Linked DNA regions of Homo sapiens: region 2 is linked to region 1. Evidence: fine-mapped expression QTL. A gene starts in region 1. The other region holds a variant in brackets. All regions are shown on one strand. Distances are from middle to middle. Region 1 holds the start of PEX14 (peroxisomal biogenesis factor 14). Region 2 overlaps PEX14 (peroxisomal biogenesis factor 14).

Region 1 (5,371 bases):
CAACACATTGTTTCAGGCACTGTTCTGGCATTTTTACATAAATAACTCATTTAAGGCCAGGTGCAGTGGCTCACGCCTGTAATACCAAGCTCTTTGGGAGGCCGAGGTGGGCAGGTTACCTGAGGTCAGGAGTTTGAGACCAGCTTGTCCAATATGGTGAAACCCCATTTCTACTTAAAAAAAAAAATTAGCCAGGCCTGGTGGTGCATACCTGTAGCCCCAGCTACTTGGGAGGCTGAGGCAGGAGAATCACTTGAACCTGGGAGGCGGAGGTTGCAGTAAGCCGAGATCGCGCCACTGCACTCCAGCCTGGTCAACAGAGTGAGACTCGGTCTCAAAAATAAATAAATAAATAAATAACTCATTTAGTCCTCAGAGCAACTCTGTGAGATAGGTCCTAGTATTTTCCCTGTTTTGCACATGGAGAAATTAAGTCTAGAAAAATTAAGTAGATCTGTCCGAGATGACATTGCTGGTAAGTTAGTGGAGTTAGGATTCCAAGCCAGTGGGTCTGGCTTTAGAGCCTATACTTGTAACCGCTATTCTACACTGCCTCTCAAGGGAAGAGAAGGTTATTCACCTTTAATAGCTGGAAACCAGAGATTGATATGACAAGGCTAACCAACAAACTTTCTGTGAAAGACAGAATACTGGCTCAGCCCCACAGTTCTAACCCTACACAACAAGGCGTGGGGGAATTAGCTAAACAATCCTTTCAATCCTACTCTGCTTTAATCGGAGAAATGGGAAACTGGATTGATCAAGACTTGAAAATGAAACAGGCAATTGCTGAAGAGCATTGGTTCATTCAAAAAGCGTGCATTTGCTTCTTGTTAGATAGCCATAGAGTCTGTTATGAAAAGTTCAAGTTTTGGCCAGGCACTGCAGCTCACGCCTGTAATCCCAGCACTTTGGGAGGCTGAGGTGGGCGGATCATGAGGTCAGGAGATCAAGACCATCCTGGCTAACACGGTGAAACCCCATCTCTACTAAAAACACAAAAAATTAGCTGGGCATGGTGGCGGGCGCCTGTAGTCCCAGCTACTAGGGAGGCTGAGGCAGGAGAATGGCGTGAACCCAGGAGGCGGAGGTTGCAGTGAGCAGAGATCGCGCCACTGCACTCCAGCCTGGGTGACACAGCGAGACTCTGTCTCAAAAAAAAAAAAAGAAAAGTTCAAGTTTTTCCCCCAGGCTGCCAGCATGTTCTGTGGCAATCCTACCTCCACCAGCTTTGGAAAGGAGGGCAAAGGAGAAGCAGAGCTGAAAATCAAACAAGTGATGGCCATGCCCCCTTAAAGGACCTTAGATCCTTTTCTATTAAATACATATACAGAGAGGGCAAACTTGCAAAACCAAAAGAATCCTTGGGCATAACAGTGGCTCCAAGTGGCAAGATTTTTAGTACTGTTTACAGCACTGGCAAATTAAATGTCCTATAAGAATCAGGAACAGAGCCGGGCACGGTGGCTCACGCATATAATCTCAGCACTTTGGGAGGCTGAGGCGGGCAGATCACTTGAAGTCAGGAGTTTAAGACCAGCCTGGCCAACATGGTGAAACCTATCGCTACTAAAATTACAAAAATTAGTCAGGTGTGGTGGCAGGCACCCGTAGTCCCAGCTACTTGGGAGGCTGAGGCAGGAGAATTGCTCGAACCCGGGAGGCAGTGAGCCGAGATTGCGCCAATGCACTCCAGCATGGGCGACAGAGAGAGACTCCGTCTTAAGAAAGAAAAAAGAATCAGGAACTGAGGACACCCTTCAATCCCAGCCTGTGGGCATTCCTAACACAAAACAATTCAGAGAAACCCAGACCCCAAGATGCCTTAGTATTTCAGCAAACTAAATGTGGTAAGGCAAGAAAGGAGAGGCCCTCCTCTCGAGACACTTGCCAAACTCCAGAACACCTGACAGTGAGAAGGCCAGAATCAGTCCTTGTTATCTCCCATGTTTTACAATCAAGACATCTTCTTCCTGAATCATTCACACTGCTAATAGAAACTGGTATGGGGGAACACACCAACTCCTTTAAGTTCAATTCTTGTAACAGACGTGCAGAATAAGACAGTAAGAAACACTAAGCGGTGGTCTTCTGCCTCTGAAGGAAGTGAAATACTAGTAAGTTGCTGAAAACTCTTAGAGGTGCTTCAAGGAGATGGGAGAGGAGGAATGAGGCCCCAAGTTGAAACTATTTTCTTCTTCCTCATTCTAATCCTAACTAAACTCAAAAATGTATGGATGACTAGTGGAGTCACACAGGTTCAATACAGGCTCAACAGAGCACACGATTTGGGGCATGTCACAAACCCTTAGTATTCATTTCTGTGAAATGGAGGTTAGTAGCCTGCACTTCATAAAGGTTGTAGTGAACACTAAACGAGATAATAGATGTAATTTGTGCTCAACATGACACCACACAGGCAGTTAAATGTAAGATGTCTCTTAGCCCTTTTCTCCTCACCCCACCCTACCCCACCTTTGGACTATAAACCCCTTCGGAGACCTTATCATCCACTGCCTCCCGGCCGCAGAGGCACAGGCGTCAACGCTGGTCCTTATGGTCCCCTTATTGGAGTGGGATTTGTCTGAATCTGCAGGTGAAAAGCTAGAGCGGAGCCCTCGGCCAACAAAACCAAACCCAGGGAAGCGAGGATGGGTCCTCAGCCAAAAGCTTGGTGGCGTCTGTTAGTCACAGTGCGTCCCTTTCCTATCAACGCACTGAGAGGGCTCGACTAGATTATTTCTGACTATCCAACTTGACGAGAGAAGCGCAAAGGTGACCACAGATGAAGAGGCTGGCAGCCGCTCCAGGAGGCTGAGGCCGTGAGGGAGTGGGAACCCTAATGGAAACAGGCCCCTCCCCGGAGGGGACAGCCGGGAACGATCGATCTATCCTCTCCTTCTCAAGCCCTCGCAGCTCAAGGCTGGGGACTTCCCAAGGGTCCCGTCACCCTCCCCAACAAGCTCAAGTGGGACCAGAGGTGCTGGCAGGCGGGAAGTGGGGACCCGGGGGCACAGCCAAACACCAGAGCCCGGGCTCCGGAATGTGGTCAAAGAGGGGTCACCGGGGGGAGGGGCCGGGTGGGGAGGACCTGGGGAGGGGCGGGGCTCAGGAGGGGGCAAGAGGTCGGGGTCCCCAGCTTCGGAGACTCGGGGTCCCTACCCGGCTCCCAGCCGTATGCTGAGCGCCCCCTCCAGCCGGGGTCTCCGCCGCACAGCGGGGCAGTCCCACTCCCCTTACCTGGCTCGGCTGCTCTGCCTGCTCCGAGGACGCCATCTTTCTGAGGCCTGACTAATCAACCGCCGCTGGGCGAGGTTTCTCCCAGGCGCCCTCGCTCTCGCCCTCCCGCCCAGACTAAGGTAGCCGGAACAGAGCCTGTCGATGTAGGGGACTGGGGCAGAGGGGTGGAGCCCGGGTGTCCGGGTCACCTTGCATAGTTTCCGTTAAGACTCTGCTTTCCAGGAAGATCCCAAGTCTATATCTTCTTTGCGTTGTTATATGTGTATTATTCTGGTTTTGCTTTTTTTTTTTGAGACGGAGTTTCGCACTTGTTGCCTAGGCTGGAGTGCAATGGCGCGATATCGGCTCACCGCAACCTCAGCCTCCCGGTTTCAAGTGATTCTCCTGCCTCAGCCTCCCGAGTAGCTGGGATTGCAGGCATGCGCCACCATGCCCGGCTAACATTGTATTTTTAGTAGAGATGGAGTTTCTCCATGTTGGTCAGGCTGCTCTCGAACTCCCGACCTCAGGTGATCTGCCCGCCTCGGCCTCCCAAAGTGTTGGGATTACAGAAGTGAGCCACAGCGCCCGGCCCATATTATTCTTATTGAGTTAATCTCTGCCCATCCCCACAGTGCCATGGGCACATTTAGGGACTTGCCAATGGATGAATGCGAAGAAACTTGGAAATTAATTTTTAGACATCAGTTCAGTTCCATTCATTGAGTGCCTACTATATGCTAGGGACTTTGGTAGGCCTTGAAATAAAAACATTCAAGACTCAATCCCTACTCCCACGCCCAGGCCAAACACACTTACAATTACAGTATTATGGGGATAGGACTCGGATAAGTGTGCAGGTCTATTGGGAGAACATAAAAGGGGGCATTTTGAAGAGAAGAGGCTTCTACAAAACGTCATTATTTTACACTGGTTGAATTGTTAGATTTTTTTAATTGTTAGATTTTAAATTAAATATTGGACGGGAGCAGTGGCTCACACCTGTAATCCCAACACTTTAGGAGGCCAAGGCAGGAGGATCCCTTGAGCCCAGGAGGTTGAGGCTGCAGTGAACTATGATTATGCCACTGCACTCCAGCCTGGGCGACAGAGCGAGACCTTGTCTAAAAATAAGATAAGAAAATAAAAAATGAAATTATATGAAAAAGGATACATACATTAGAGTTAACCGCCAGCTCCTATTATAGTTGTGTTTTGATCAATATAGACTGCTTAAAAGGGATGACTTAATGAATAATTCCTCCTACTAAACGCTGTTTTAAATGTCTAAACTTTTCTTGAGATAATATCCAATTTCCTCTCCCACGTTTTTTTTGTTTGTTTTTGCTTTTGTTTTTGTTTTTGCTTGAGACGAAGTCTTGCTCCTGACGCCCAGGCTGGAGTGCAATGGTGCGATCTGGGCCGACTGCAACCTCCGCCTCCCGGGTTCAAGCGATTCACCTGCCTCAGCCTCCCAAGAGCTGGGACTACAGGCGTGCGCCATCACGCCCGGCTAATTTTTGTATTTTTAGTAGAGATAGGGTTTCACCATGCTGGCCAGGCTGGTCTCAAACTACTGACCTCAGATCATCTGTCCGCCTCGGCCTCCTAAAGTGCTGAGATTACAGGGGTGAGCCACCGCCCCCGGGGCCCTTGCCCACGTTTTTATAAACAAAATATGAGGTGGGAGGATTGCTTGAGCCCAGGAGATCAAAACTGCAGTGAGCCATCATCGCGCCACTGCACTCCAGCCTGGGAGACAGAGCGAAACGCTGTCTCAAAAAAAGAAAAAAGAAACAAGGAAGGAAAGTGTCCCCCGAATGAATAAATATGAGCAGATAATTACTTCTAGTTTACATAAAATGCCCTCTTTTAAGAGAGGAACTTTTTGATCATTTTTATTACTATTCTTTTAATCTTAGATGTTTATTTTTCAGGAGGAAAAAAACAAACTTTTCCATAGTAGCAGTATTAAAACAAAGATGAATATGTTGTCAAGAGGCATCTGAACAATCTCCAACAGTGCCGAGTCGCATTTCCCCTTTCCTCTCCGATGCATTTGAGACTTTAATGCTTACTATATTTATTTAAGCGTTTTGTTCTGAGACCCCAAACTAATTTGCACAGTTGAAGCAGGAAATAGAATGGGTGG
Region 2 (5,371 bases), 32 kb before region 1:
GGGATGAAATGAGGCTGAAACCTGTAAACCAGGGAGCCGTGTGATGCAATTAGAGATGCCAAAGTCCAAAATTAGGAAAGGATCGATCTAGTCAAGCCCAACTTGGTGGCAGGTAGAGAATAACTCACATTTCTAGGTGGGCAGCCTGTGCCAACCACAAACCATCCCTGGGCTGCCTTCCCTGCTGATCTATAATTGGTGGGTCAGTGATGGAGCTACCAATTATCTTGAGGCCCCCTGTATTTAGTTCACAGACAAAGGGAAGCAGGAGAGACCAGTTAGTAATGAGTAAGTAATGGCCACGAAAATACATTGTATTATACAAAGCTGCTTCGGCAGGAAAAGCCATTTGGAAAATAAAGCGTAAAAGAATAAAATAAGCTGGAGAAACTCAATTTTCTCCTCCCTTCCTCCCAAAGCCACACTTAGGATAAAATGAGGTTTGTGCAGGTTAATCCTTAAGAGGTAAGAAAAAAATGATTAAATACATTTAAAAAATCAATTGTACATTAAACCAAATCCAGGAACTGCAAAAACAAACACGGCAGCGTTCCTCCAGCCGGCATTAGCTCTGCCAGTCTGGTCAGTAGGGGATACCCCCACCTGATGGAGCCCGCTGAGGTCACAGAAGACAAGCAGAGAGGAAGGGGAGAGAACCAGGGCTGGGGAGTGGGATGGGACCACAGATCTGGATTTCACTGGAACTGAAGTTATTTCTAGATATTATAAAGAAATAAAATGCCTTACAAATGGGGCTCTGGGGACCAGGCTGAATTCTTCAAAAATCCAATAGAAATAATAATAATGAGAATCATTTGATAAACAGAAATTATAAACCACCTTACTGTCAAATGATGTGCCACTATTTCTCGTTATTTCTTCTGTTTATTAACAAATTCTATTAACTGCCATTTTTCAGACAACAGAGAGCTGGAGAGGTGAGGTTAAGAGGCATGCCTTTGCCGGGCGCGGTGGCTCACGCCTGTAATCCCAACACTTTGGGAGGCCGAGGCAGGCGGATCATGAGGTCAGGAGATTGAGACCATCCTGGCTGACATGGTGAAACCCCATCTCTACTAACAACAAAAAAAAATTACAAAAAAATTAGCCGGACGTGGCGGCGGGCGCCTGTAGTCCCAGCTACTCGGGAGGCTGAGGCAGGAGAATGGCGTGAACCTAGGAGGCGGTGTTTGCAGTGAGCCGAGATCGCACCACTGCACTCTAGCCTGGGCGACAGAGCGAGACTCCGTCTCAAAAAAAAAAAGGAGGCATGCCTTTGTCTTTCAGGAATGCCACTCTCTGCAGTGGAGCTGGATGGAAACTCCCACCCTTCCCCAGTACCCTGGGATCTTCAGATGAAAGCCTGAAAGAATGCAAAGCCACAAGAAAGTGGCCCTAGGTCACCCGCTCCTCCCTCAGTGGAGTCAAGGCTGAGAATTCTTAGCTAATCCTAAATAAACCTCACATGGCTGAAATGTCACGGCCAATTTGCTTCCCCGTGTGGACTGCAACCATCTGGTTCTGCCTGCAACCAGCCTTTCTCCTCCTGGGCACCTGCCTCAGCCACACAGCTGGAAGATCTGGCAGGCAGGAGCATTCAGAGGGCACAGTAGGAGGTGCACTTCTGGGGGGGAGGGAGCTGGGACTCACTCTGACAAGGCACAAGTTGCCCATATGTCAGTCTTGGGCCCCCAATCTAAAAATCTGGCACATCCAAGGCCGGGCGCGGCAGCTCACGCCTGTAACCCCAGCACTTTGGGAGGCCGAGGTCAGGAGATCGAGACCATCCTGGCTAACACAGTGAAACCCCGTCTCTACTAAAAATACAAAAAAATTAGCAGGGCATGGTGGCGGGCGCCTGTAGTCCCAGCTACTCGGGAGGCTGAGGCAGGAGAATGGCATGAATCCGGGAGGCGGAGCTTGCAGACAGCCGAGATCGCACCACTGTACTCCAGCCTGGGTGACAGAGCGAGACTCCGTCTCAAAAAAAAAACAAAAACAAAAAACAAAAAAATGGCACATCTGCAATGTTCCCCTTCATGTGTTTCTGAAATAAGTCATTTAGAATTGAAGAGAAACCTCTGTAAGACTAGTTTGGATAGGGGGAGGGAGTGGGGTTGGGGGGAAATGCTGACAGGAAGAACAGGTAATCAACCATATGACAGTGGTATTCCCAACAGAATTAAAGACACGTGCCCATGGGGGAAAGTTTCAAAACCTCTAAACATTATTTGAGTGGGTTATCAATGTCTAGCTCTTGGCAACAAGTAAGATCTGACAGAAAGATTTTACTCTCTTAAAGACATCTCTATTCTCTTATCTTCAAAGCAGGTGAACTTTGCTGCCTTAACTCTGACAATGAGGAATTTGTGGATGTTGATAGAAACACAGATAAAGGATTTACCTGAGGGGGCAGAGAAAGTAGAAATAAAAGATCCTGGATATTGTATTTTCTTTACTTATGCGGATTCCAGTGACTCCCTGGAGACCTGCAGGCACCACTTTAAGAGCTGGAGTCCAGAGCAAATTGCTCAATTGTCCAACCTTCTCCCCGCCAGCAAGAGACAGAACAACAAGCGGCTGCTGCCCCCTAGAAGCTACCAGGGGCATAGCACCTTGCTATATAGACATCACATGAAAAGATCCTATTATCTCCTCTCCATCCCATAACCTGTCATTAGTGAGGTACATGGGTGCAGACGCCTCCTCTGAGCACAAGGAGGCACACATCACCTGTGATAAATTAATAGGCGCCTTTTCAACAGCTAAGATGCACACAAAAGACTCCAACCACGGAGAGCACACTAAGGCAGCAGCCTCAGAAAGGAGGTACAGAATCACCAGGCAGCACTGAGCATCGGCTGAAGATACGTTTGTGCAGCGGGCGCCCCGCACGCACGCTAGTGTGCCTGACAGCGCGGTCCACACCGCACCCATACCTGCTCTCCCCGTCTGCACAGGTTCAGCAGCATGGACACCAGCTTTCAATCCCAGTCCTGCCACTTCTTAGCTGTAGGAACTTGAATGCTCTGGGCTCAGTCTCCTCACTGCAAAATGAGTAATTCTCACAAATTTGTTGGAATCAAACAAAGTAACCAAAATAAAGACACCAACAGCGAGACCAAAATAAAGACACCAACAG[C/T]GAGGCCAGAATATTACAGAGTAGAAGCCCTCCTGGCCTATGTGATCGGAGCTAGTAATTGTTCGGTTAATCAAAAAATCAGTTAAAGCAGGGAATCAAAAATGGAACCTGCTCCACATACTGAAAACATTTTCTATTAACTGAAAACCTATAAACATTCAGTCACTGCTGATCTTTTGATGTAAAGCCAAGCCCTTTGCTTTGAGTGTGGGCCCACAGACTGAAGTTCCCAGACGTCTTTCTTGCATAAACCCTACCCATAACACAGCCTCCACAATTTCTAAAGCAAAGTAAGAACTTCAAGACATCAGTAAAGCAATCAAAGTACAGAATCCTTCTAGATGTTTATGATCTTCCTCTAATGTTTAACTGTCATCTCGCTCACACCTAATTTGACAGCAATGTTTTTAGCAATTCACATTTAGCAAAGCATTTAACTTAGTTTTCATAAAACTTTCTTTTCACATTTCTTTTTATAGAACACATTATAGCCAGGCGTGGTGGCTCACGCCTGTAATCCCAGAACTTTGGGAGGCCGAGGCGGGCGGATCACCTGAGGTCGCAAGTTCAAGACCAGCCTGACCAACATACAGAAACCTCGTCTCTAAAAATACAAAAAATTAGCCGGGCATGGCGGCGCATGCCTGTAATCCCAGCTACTCAGGAGGCTGAGACAGGAGAATCACTTGAACCTGGGAGGCAGAGGTTGCAGTGAGCAAGATCATGCCATTGCACTCCAGCCTGGGCAGCAACAAGAGCGAAACTCCATCTCAAAAAAACACACAAAAAAAGAACACATTATATTTGCAGAACCCTCTCTTCACACTCTTAGTTCACCTGTTGACATCATGTTTAATACAAGGACACAGGTTTAGGGACAAACTAGCTCCTGGGGTACAGATGAGTGTGGGAGAGACTGGCTGAGGACCTGCCTTGTTCAGAGCACCAAGAGCCTGGTGAGTACGTTCCATGGGACCCAAACAGCAAGTTGGTCAGACAGGGATGCCAAATGCAAGCTCTTGACACAGTTTTAAAAATATGTTCTTATTGATACCCCTGCTTCATTTCACAAAAGACTCTAAACGACTCTCAAAAGTACACATAAGCCTGTAATCCCAGCACTTTGGGAGGCTGAGGCGGGCAGATCACTTGAGGCCAGGAGTTCAAGACCAGCCTGGCCAACATGGCAAAACCCTGTCTTTACTAAAAATACAAAGATTAGCTGGGCATGGTGGCACACACCTGTGATCCCAGCTACTCAGGAAGCTGAGGCACAAGAATCACTTGAACCCGGGAGGCGGAGGTTGTAGTGAACCATGATCATGCCACTGCACTCCAGCCTGGGCAACGGAGCAAGACTCCGTCTCAAAAAAAAAAAAAATACACACAAGCTGGGCCGGGTGGCTCACACCTGTAATCTTGGCACTCTGGGAGGCTAAAGAGAAGGTTCACTTGAGCCCAGGAGACTGTGACCAGCCTGGCCAACACGGTGGGACCCTGTCTCTATAAAAATTTAAATAAAATTTAAATAAAATAAAAATTTCAAAGTACACACAAGACAACAAGATACAGCAAAGGAAAAGTATGGTAAAGGGGGGGAAAAAAGATTGTGTTTTGTTTTTGAGACAGGTCTCGCTCTGTCACCCAGACTCACTGTAATCACAATCTCCTGGGTTGATGCAATCCTCCTGCCTCAGCCTCCAGAGTAGCTGGGACTACAGGCTCGAGCCACATGTCCCACTAATTTTTGCATTTTTTATAGAGATGGCACCTCGTCACGTTGCCCAGGCTGATCTCAAAACTCCTGGGCTCAAGCAATTCTCTTGCCTCAGCCTCGCAAGGTGCTGGGATTACAGGTGTGAGCCACCATACCTAGCCTAAAAGATGTTTAATACCTGTTCTTTATTCTCCTTCTCCATCAAAATCCACTGTCGGTAAATGCTAGTTAAATGAAACCATTTATAGAAATAATCATTGGCCAGGTATGGTGGCTCATGCCTGTAATTCCAACACTTTGGGAGGGAGGCCAAGGTGGGCAAATCACTTGAGGTCAGGAGTTTTGAGACCAGCCTGGCCAACATGTTGAAACTCCGTCTCTACTAAAAATACAAAAACTTAGCTGGGTGTGGTGGCGCACACCTGTAATCTCAGCTACTGAGGAGGAGGCAGGAGAACAGCTTGACCCTGGGAGGCGGAGGTTGCAGTGAGCCAAGATGGCACCACTGCACT

The links. PIP is the estimated chance that this variant, and not a neighbour inherited with it, causes the effect.
Region 2: its variant is the best candidate, but not a certain one, in a credible set for the expression of PEX14 in whole blood (TOPMed, PIP 0.52).

Annotation. Positions count from the first base shown.
Region 1 is chr1:10,472,872-10,478,242 of GRCh38, reverse strand. PEX14 (peroxisomal biogenesis factor 14) reads right to left here and starts at 3,293. Exons shown (of 9, transcript NM_004565.3): 1 at 3,241-3,293. The coding sequence starts at 3,276. RefSeq lists a silencer at 3,037-3,206 and enhancers at 3,207-3,396, 3,219-4,184.
Region 2 is chr1:10,504,837-10,510,207 of GRCh38, reverse strand. All of the region lies in intron 2 of PEX14 (peroxisomal biogenesis factor 14), which reads right to left. Among named protein-coding and RNA genes, the nearest start is that of PEX14, 33 kb to the right of the region's middle. RefSeq lists enhancers at 852-1,540, 2,715-2,774, 2,805-2,864. The variant C/T (reference allele first, on the strand shown) is at 3,143.